Linked DNA regions of Homo sapiens. The protein of the gene in region 3 purifies or fractionates together with the protein of the main gene of each other region. This does not show direct contact. Each region holds a gene or a part of one and is shown on either strand. Other genes may lie near its edges. The genes, in order: FRMD4A, EEA1 and PPP2R3A.

The links.
Region 1: the proteins of PPP2R3A (region 3) and FRMD4A purify together in Homo sapiens (co-immunoprecipitation; one large-scale study listed by IntAct). This does not show direct contact.
Region 2: the proteins of PPP2R3A (region 3) and EEA1 purify together in Homo sapiens (co-immunoprecipitation; one large-scale study listed by IntAct). This does not show direct contact.

What each region holds. Positions count from the first base shown.
Region 1 is NC_000010.11:13,655,768-13,659,425, forward strand, and holds part of FRMD4A (FERM domain-containing protein 4A), read right to left. Parts: coding exon 3,556-3,658; intron 1,756-3,555; coding exon 869-1,755; intron 163-868; exon of another isoform or gene 1-162. UniProt on the Homo sapiens protein: Scaffolding protein that regulates epithelial cell polarity by connecting ARF6 activation with the PAR3 complex. Plays a redundant role with FRMD4B in epithelial polarization. May regulate MAPT secretion by activating ARF6-signaling.
Region 2 is NC_000012.12:92,803,796-92,807,453, forward strand, and holds part of EEA1 (early endosome antigen 1), read right to left. Parts: intron 1-3,658. UniProt on the Homo sapiens protein: Binds phospholipid vesicles containing phosphatidylinositol 3-phosphate and participates in endosomal trafficking.
Region 3 is NC_000003.12:136,145,906-136,148,397, reverse strand, and holds the end of PPP2R3A (serine/threonine-protein phosphatase 2A regulatory subunit B'' subunit alpha), read right to left. Parts: 3' UTR 504-2,492; downstream 1-503. UniProt on the Homo sapiens protein: The B regulatory subunit might modulate substrate selectivity and catalytic activity, and might also direct the localization of the catalytic enzyme to a particular subcellular compartment.

The DNA.
Region 1 (3,658 bases), on a different chromosome or scaffold from region 3:
CTTACCTCTCATTTTATTCTTATGATGTTTACCATTTCTCTTCTCCTCAGTGTCCCTCTCTGAGTGGTAAGAGTATGTTAATAAGCCAGTGCTGAGACCGGAGCACGAGGCAACTGCTCAATGTTGGTCATTGTCACTGTTATTAAATGTAACTTAAGGGAATGAGTGGTTTCTTCCTTTTTTTTTTGTTTTTTACTTGATTCAATACCGCCCAATGCTCTTGAGTATGAGAATATAAGGTAAACTTTATAGAAATTTTCAGATATAACGTCAAGGATATTTAAGACACTTAAATAATAGTTTGTGGCTATGGCATAACATCATCATCGAAATGGGAAAGCCAGGAGCAGCCAGGAATTCTGTCAAACGCACAGCTCTGGCACTGTTTATTAGCCAGTCTGCCCCCATCTGGGGAGACACTGGCCAAATCTCTAGGCTTGACCCAAGCCCATCCCCAACCCAGCTTCCTTTGCAAGCTACAGCTGTGGGCTTTCACTGGGATACTCTCCTCACTAGGGTAAAAGACACCTTTGGTTGGATAAACCCAGAGACATTACTTTTACTTTACCTAACTAACTTTCTTAGATTTCTGTCTTTACAAGGAGAAATGGGAGAGCTGGCCCAGTGCACTCTGGAGGGTCAGGTGCACGGTTATGGTGCAAGATTAGGGTTAGAACGGGGCGGGGTCAACAAAGGCCTGGAAGACCTCAAGTCTCCCGCATCTAACAGCAGCGTTCCCAGAATTAATTAATGATTCCCGTTCCTCACTGCACCCAGTCCTAAGGGTACCTTCCCCGCGGTAGCCCTTGACACCGGCAAGCAGTTCGCCCTCAGGTCTTCCCGCGTGCACCTGGCCGCCCCCTCTCACCTGACGTGGCCTTGCACATCTGGGGCATCCTGGTGACCCTGCTGTGCGCCACGAAGGTGCTCTGGGAGGAGGTGCTGTACTGCGAGCCGCTGTCCGAGGAGGTGGAGCTGGTGTGCGACAGGCGGCTGTGCTCCTTGTGCGAGGCGGTGGAACGCTGGTACCACTGGCGCAGCTCGTCTGAGACGGCGGCACGGCCCGCGCCCTTGTCGTGGGCGCCCTCGCGGCCCAGCGACGGAGTCCGCAGGATCTGCGATCGCGACGGCGTCAGGCGGCCCGTGTCGCCCTCGTCGCCGCCGCCGCCGCGCCAGCTCTCCTTGAACAGGCCGCCCGCCGTGTAGGAGTTGGACGTCTTGAACTGAGCCTTGACGCTGTAGTGGCCCTCCTGGTCGCTCTCCAGGCTGCGCACCACCACGGGCGTGGCGCCGCCCTCGATGTACAGCGGGTACTCCTTGATGCGGTACTGCGAGCTGGGCTGGCTCTGGCTGTGCAGGTACACACCGCCCCCCGCGCCCCCCGCGCCCCCCGCACCCCCGCGCGCCGCCAGGTTGGGCATGCTGCCCGAGCTGGCTGAGCCCAGTGCGCCCGCCGCCCGCTGCCGCTGCCTCTGCCTCTGGCGCGCCTTGGACGGCGAGTCCTCGGCCAGCGTGGAGTAGTTGGCGTTCATCTGCGCCGGGTAGTAGTGCTCCGAGCTCGAGTGGCTGGTGCACGACGAGCAGTCGTCCATGGGGTCTGAGCCGTTGCTGCTACGAGTCCGCGGGGTGTAGAAGTCGGGGCTCCCGGTGTCGTTTTCCGAGCCCAGGAGCTTGCCCTGGGACTCCAGGCTGGAGCTCCGGTGCCTAAAGTGCAGTGCGAGGCTGTGCAGTCGGGTGGGGCTGATGTCCACCGACCTGCCGGGAGACGACCCGGGTTGGTCTGGGGGTGGGGAGTGGGCCCAAGGAGGGGTGCTCCGGGGAGGAGGGGGTCCTGAGGAGGGCACTGGGTGTCTGCACGCGGGCGCAGGCCCCAGCCCAGCAAGCCAGAGTCTCACTCAGCAGGGCTGCCCCAGGGATCCGGGAACTGCCCATTGCGGGAGGTGAACCTGGGGTCTCCACCATGATTCCCAGTGGGAAGTGGGACTGAAGCTAGGACTCACAGAAAGGTTTCGATTTCTGGGTTTTTTTTTTTTTTTAAATAATTCTATAGACACAAAGAGAATCACAGAATCCTTAGTATCATGTTAAACCAGATAGGGCTGGGCACTGTGGTCCACGCCTGTAATCCCAGTGCTTCAGGAGGCTGAAGAATTGCTTGAGCCTGGGAATTTGAGACCATCCTGTGCAACACTGTAAGACCTCATCTCTTACAAATAAATTAGAAAATTAGCTGGGTGTAGTGTTGTACACCAGGGGTCCCAGCTAGTCAGGAGGTTGAAGAGGGAGGATCACTTGAGGATGCAGTAAGCTATGATCAAACCACTGCACTCCAGCCTGGGCAACAGGGCAAGACCCTGTCTCTCTTAAAAAAAAAAAAAAAAAAAAAAAAAGAAAACACAAACCAGATGAAATGTCCCTATTTACAGATCAGATAAAAGCAGTCCTACAGAGGCCCTTCATATTGTTTAACCAAATACTATTACATGATCCATATAAATAGACTCCCCTTTCCTGTGAAAACTGGGAAATAGAAGGTTGGTGGCAAATGAGATAATTAAACAATGAATGATGCAAATACTCACCATACCATTACTTTATAATTCATTCTGCTCGTTTGAGTCCACTCAGGGCTTAGGGAAGTGCAAAACAGTATCACATGGCAGATGATGTTGCCCGATGCTGGGACTGCATGTGAACTTCACAGCGGCCCCACGGGCCAAGCACAGGAAGAGGCGAGTCCCACTTCCGACTGCCACTCAGAAGGGGGATGAAAGCCCCCATCACGTGGCCCTCCGTGATCTGGTTTGCTTCTTTTTAGAAAAAGAAGGTGTGGCTAGGAGCGGTGGCTCACGTCTCTAATCCCAGCACTTTGGGAGGCCAAGGTGGGTGGATCACCTGAGGTCAGGAGTTCCAGACCAGCCTGGCCAACATGGTGAAACCCCGTCTCTACTAAAAAATACAAAAATTAGCCAGGCGTGGTGGTAGGTGCCTGTAATCCCACCTACTTGGGAGGCTGAGGCAGGAGAATCGCTTGAACACGGGAGGCAGAGGTTGCAGCGAGCCAAGATCGCGCCACTGTACTCCAGCCTGGGTGACAGAGCAAGACTCCATCTCAAAAAAAAAAAAAAAAAAAGAAACAGAAGGTGTGATTCACTGAAGCCTCATTTTTGCCTGGCTCTTTTGCTCTTTATGAATTTACATTTTGAGGCACTAAAGGAAGTCCAGTATAAATTTAGGCCTCAGTAGAAAGATAGAAGACCTCTTCCCATGCTAACCCAGCCAGCCTCTGTGGCCTCTGCTTTGCTTAGGAAACTTTCCATGCTCCCTGTCTCCAGAAGCCCGGGGATTCTTTGGCTGACTCCAAGTGCCCTGTGCATGGGTCTCTTGGCTAACGGGGGTTGACTGCTGCCAGCTTGGTTTTTTATTCCGCTTCATTTATCCTCCCAGGTTCAGGTCTGACTGTAGCTCATCCATTATTTGGGCCAGCTTGGGGCTGACAATGCCCAATTTTAAAAAGGAAGGCTTGGTCTGAGCAGGAAGGCCAGGCAGACTCACCTCGTGGAATGGACGTAGTGGGGACTCCGGACCCGCAGGTCTGGCGTGGACGGCATGCTGGACTGGGAGTTCCAGTGCGGGAGGCCGCGGATGGGGCTGTTCT
Region 2 (3,658 bases), on a different chromosome or scaffold from region 3:
TTATACTAATATTATTTTACATTTTAATATAGTTAAAATCCCTGTTAAGCAACCTTAGAATTAAGACTTGATATATTTATTTACTATGCTGCTTAACTTTTTCAAAATTAATTACAAAATCATAAGACTATGTGAATCAAAGAAAGCAAAACAGAAATAGAGGCTTACATAGTCACTGTGACACTTCTTGTTTTTTTTTAAGTAACTAAGGGAAGAAATAAACAAGTCCACAATCATAGTTGGAAACTATAATATCTCTTTTTAGAAACTGATAGAACAACCAGAGGAACAAATTGGCAAGAATATAGACAATAAGAACAGCACTGTAATTGTTATTTATAGCCACTCCACCCAATAACACAGAGTACATATATGTGCACATGGAAAATTAATTATGATAAGCCATATGCTGGGCCTTAAATAAGACTTACTTTCAAAAGTTTGAATTTTACCAAGAATGTTCTCTGACCACAATAAAATTAAATTAGAAATTAGGGCCAGGCACGGTGGCTCACGCCTGTAATCCCAGCACTGTGGGAGGCCAAGGTGGGCGGATCACAAGGTCAGGAGATCGAGACCAACCTGGCTAACACAGTGAAACCCCCATCTCTACTAAAAACACAAAAATTAGCCAGGCATGATGGCAGGCACCTGTAATCCCAGCTACTCGTGAGGCTGAAGCAGGAGAATCGCTTGAACCCAGGTGGCAGAGGTTGCAGTGAGCCGAGATCACGCCACTGCATTCCAGCCTGGGCGACAGAGTGAGACTCTGTCTCAAAAAAAAAAAAAAAAAAAAAAATCAGTAACAATAATATACCTAGGAAAGCCTCAATATTTGGAAAGTAAACATACTTATAACCTACACATTAAAGAAGGAATCACAAAGGAAATCAGAAAATATATTAAACTGCAGAGGAATGAAAATACATTGTAAGATGGGAGGGAAACATTGGGTGTATAAATGTAAGGGGGCCCTCAAAAAGGGGAGCCCTGTATCCTGTTATTTGGGCTAAGCCCTGGGCTCATGGGTGGGGTTTAGTCAAAGTCTCTATATGTTTATCTGATATAAGAGCAGAAGGGACCCCAGCCCTCCTTGCCTAGGTAGTACTCCAGAAATGTGAGAAGACCTCAGAGGAGAAATGTATGTACAAAGTACATAGGCAAGAAAGATCTTAAAGGTTTTCCTACCCCAATAGGATGTGGGAGCCCTGTAAGTGAATTCTGAACCATGAGATTAGAACATAGAATGAAAATGGGTCCACTTCCATTGGGCCCATTGGAAACAGAAAGAACCATTGGGCCTGCAGAGTTTTTGAGGAACAGAACAAAAGCCATCTCGGAGATGATCTTCATGGACTGATGCCTGCATTCTAGAGATAATGATGAACCATTTGGTTGGTAATGTAATGGATCAGATATGCTCCTCAAATACCTAGGCACTGGAAACTACCGTGAGGAGGAATGCCACCTGAGGCACAAGATGCAATTCTATAACCTCCGATTCAAAGCATCAGGACCCAATTTACTAGATATGAAAATGAGAATATTTTCACCATCATATCCCCAAACAAGGATGAAAACCATGAAGGTGTGAAACAACTTAATCATCAACTCTGATGGGTTTTATTTCACCTTTCTGAAGAGGACTTTTCTCAGGTTCTTAGTCTCTACCTTTACTACTGGAACAGTCAAGAGCCCTCATCCCCTTGACACAAGTCAAGTCCATCAACTCAGTCAGAGCAGGTGATTTGATGTTTAAAGACAAAATGTACTCAAATGTAACCAGTTATATGAAGACATTCAAATGAATTGGGTGGAACTGATTTTTATCCATCAAAATAATGGTGAGTGATGTGTTCATTGAAGATCTCATCATGGCAGGACCCAAATTCAGCATCAACATCAAGGATAAGCTGGGCAAGAGACTAATTCTACCTTGGGAGTGAACGAATGATGCTGCAGCTAAGCACTTCTATGGCTATATATGTTCAGAAGCACATGCCCATTCTGCCACCAGAGACATTTGAAATTTCATATACTAATAAATCGTATAGGTCCCAATAACTTCTAAACCAATCCACCCTTATACTCAGAGCTGCCATGAATCCATTGAGCACTTTAGTGCAAATTAGAAAAAAGATACCCTCTTTCAAGATAATTTATTCCATCTGTGGCAAAACTGTCATAATACACTGATTTTATTAGAATAAGGCTACATACTACCATCTGCAGAAATCTTACATCTAGCATTGACAAGTGAAAAGTGGGTAACTGAAAAAAAGAAACAGATACTACAAAATGTAGACAGACACAGTGACGCTTTCACATTTAAAAGCTATTAAAAAAAAGCAAAGTAATAAGGTCTAAAGATGGAAACAATAAAGAGGAGAAATAAATAAGATAGAAAACTGACAAAATAAATCAAAAGCTTTTTACAATAGTCTGATAAAACTGATAAATCTCTAATTAAATTGATTTTTAAAAAGACAAATTAGCATGATTAAGAATAAAGGAGGAACACTACTACAGATCCTAACAGACCTTAAAAGTGTAATATTATGAACAACTGCCAATAAACTTGAAGTTTAGAGGAAATGAACCCATTTCTGAAAGACACAATGTACCAAAACTGACTCAAGAAAAAAAAATCAGGAAATTAGAATAGCTCTATGTCTATTAAATGAATTGAACCCCAAATGAAACAATCCAGAAAGAGAACTCTAAGCCTAGCCAGTTCACTAGTGAATTCCATCAAACTTTTAAGAAACAAATAATATCCATCTCATACAAACTATTTCAGAAAGGAGGAGGAAATACTTCTCAATTCCTTTTTAAGGCCAGTATAACTCTGATATCAAAACCTGACAATGATATTAAAAGAATACTACAGACCAATACCCCTCATAAATATATGAAACATTTTTAACAAAGTATTATCAAATCAAAAACAGCAATATACAAAAAGGTAATACAGCATGGTCAAGTTAATTTATCCCAGGAAAGCAAGGTTGGTTTAACAGTAAATCAATCAATGTAACTGACCATATTAACAGAATAAAACAGAAAATCCATATGATCACATCAACAGATACAGGAAAAAAGGTGATAAAATTCAATCCAAGCACGGTAATTTTTCTTTTTTAATAATTTTTTTTTTTTTGAGACGGAGTCTCGCTCTGTCGCCCAGGTTGGAGTGCAGTGGCACTGGAGTGCAGTGGCATGATCTCAGCTCACTGAAACTTCTGCCTCCCAGGTTCAAGCAATTCTCATGCCTCAGCCTCCCGAGTAGCTGAGATTACAGGCGTGTGCCACCATCCCCTGCTGATTTTTGTATTTTTAGTGGAGACGAGGTTTCACCCTGTTGGCCAGGCTGGTCTCGAACTCCTGACTTCAGATGATCTGCCTGCCTCAGCCTCCCAAATTTCTAGGATTACAGGCATGAGCCACAAGGCCGATAATTTTTTTTTTATATATAACTAGGTATCAAAGGTAATGTCTTCAATCTGATAAAGGGAATCTCAGAAAAACCTACAGCTAACCTCAAACTTAATGATGAAACATTTAATATTTCCTGCCTAAGATTAGAAATAATGCAAAGATATTTGCCAATACTGTTTACATTCACAATGTTACTGGATGTCCCAGCCAGCAAGAAAAA
Region 3 (2,492 bases):
GAAATGCTTTAGAAAATACTAAGTTCAAAGTATGGTATTTTATACTTTTCTCTTTTTAAAAAAATTAAAAGCTAGGCACAGTGGTGTGTGCCTGTAATCTCAGCTACTTAGGAGGCTGAGGTGGGAGGATCACTTAAGCTCAGGAGTTCGAACTCAGCCTGGGCAACATAGACCTTGCCTCTGAAATAAAATTTAGGTACCCCAAAACATGCCGTTACACATTCTTTTAAAATAATGCATTATAGATGAGGCTAAAGTCTACCTTGATTCCTGTGAACTCCGCCTCATTCACAAACCCTGGTCCTCTTCCCTATCCCCTGAAGAAATCATTTCTCAGTATATTGTCATTACTACAAAGACCTTTCTTTGTAGTTTTCACATGGGCTCAAAGAGTTATTCTCTGACATTCAAGCTTGTTTACAGTGTTACTCTTGCAGACAAAAAAATGAGGTGCAAATATGATTAAAAGCACAAGTGTGTAGTAATTACCTTAATGAACATGATTCATATTTGACAACTTTATTTAGTTTTGCTAAAAGGGAAAAACAAAGTCATGCAGCCTTCTCCAAACACATCTTAACATTTCAAAAAGCTGAGCAAATCTCATTTGATGAATCTAGAGTTTTATAAACACTTTGAATGGTACACAGTGACAAGATGCAGGGAAGATATATGGAATTTTATTAGTTTGATTACCTTGGTAATGTTATGCTATTAAACTCATTTCTCATTGAATTAGCATTAAGGTCATGATAACCCTCAGCTTTTATCAAGGGGCCTGGGATATTATAATAACTTGAAAATTCCAGTTTGGCAGTAATGATTATACTTAACCATGATCTTTACCAGAAAGTCAAATATATTCTACCTTAATTCCTCAGAATTCACATTCCTTGCATTCAGCTCCAAGGAAGGAGTACAATAAAACACATTCTTATAATTCCTGAAAATGTGATAATGTGGGTAAATTACAATAGCCCATTTTAAATGGAATGGTATTGATGGATGTACTTTTATAATAGAGACTTTGTAAGAGAATGGGGTCTTGCTCTGTCGCCTAGGCTGGAGTGCAGTGTCGTAATCATAGCTCACTGCAGCCTCGAAGCCTGGGGCTCAAGCGATTCTCCTGCCTCAGCCTCCCAAGTTGGTAGGACTACAGATGTGCACCACCATGCCCAGCTAAATTTATTTTTTGTAGAGACGGAGTCTCACTATGTTGCCCAGGCTGGTCTTTACTCCTGGGCTCAAGTGATCACCTCCCTTGGCCTCCCAAAGTGCCGGGATTACAGGCATGAGTCACCATGCCCAGCCAATAATTAAGAGACTTCAAAAACCAGATCAAAGTGAAAGCAAGAGGACTTCAGTAAGGAGAACCAAGGTAAAAAGGTAAAGCCAAATAGTTAAAAAAAAAAATGTATATTGTAAAATTGAATTTTTACTTTTTGGTGAATCTTATTAGTTTAGATCATTATGGATAATAAAACATTTAAACCATATCTGGCTTCTAAGAAAAGTATTTTTTTTTTTTTTGTATTTCTATCTGAAATGAAATAATTGCTTTTCTTCCCTGGTAAAGGCTGGATGGATTGGTAGGAGATTTCATTTATCACATAAATAATCTTAATCTTAATAATTTATCAGTGTGTTTAGATTTTGAATATTGTGTTTCCTAAAAATTATTTTTAAGCTTTTAATTCTTTTGTGTGAACTATTAGATAGTTGCAATAGTTACTGCTTTCTGTAATAGTTAAATGGAAGATCAGTTCTAATCATGAAGATAAAATGACAGGGAACTGGGAGCTTGTGACAGGCAGGATTCCTAGGATTGTTAACTCTCACTGTACTGTACCTTGTTTATAGCATATTTATTTCCTAAATTCTCCTTTTCTTTTTGCCTACCATAACTCTAACCCAAGGTTCATTTCACTGCTTGGCCTTTATGCCAGCAAGGAGGGAACCTAGGTAGGGTGGAAAGGGAAGCTATTCTTGACACTTTCAGAACTAGTTAAAAAAAAAATCTAGGGGAAAAGTTGATGACTGACAGATGGATATTAAGTTGCTTGGGGGTTTTACTTACATCAGAAATGTCTATCCTTTTTAATAGTTTCTTTTCAAGGATATTATAGGATTTGGCTGGACTGTGGCCTGCTGAAAAATGTAGGATTCTGTAGTGAATACATCTACAACTACAGTAAATAACAGCTTTCTTTTATAGCTGTATCATTTTCCATTTCCTTGATAAATACTGAGGTGGATGAAATATCTGTAGTAATTGTTTTCAACATGAAGTAAAGAATAACGTTGAGGCCTTTACTATTAGCTAGTCTAATACTCCTGGGAGGAAGGAATATATCTATCTAGTAAGAATTTTAATGTATCATTATTCCTTTATGTCTTCAAGCAGGCCTTCTGATAGGAAGTGAAAACAGTTATCAACTAATTTGGATATTAAATACATCATTCAATAGTTCAATGAATAAAAGATAAAAGTT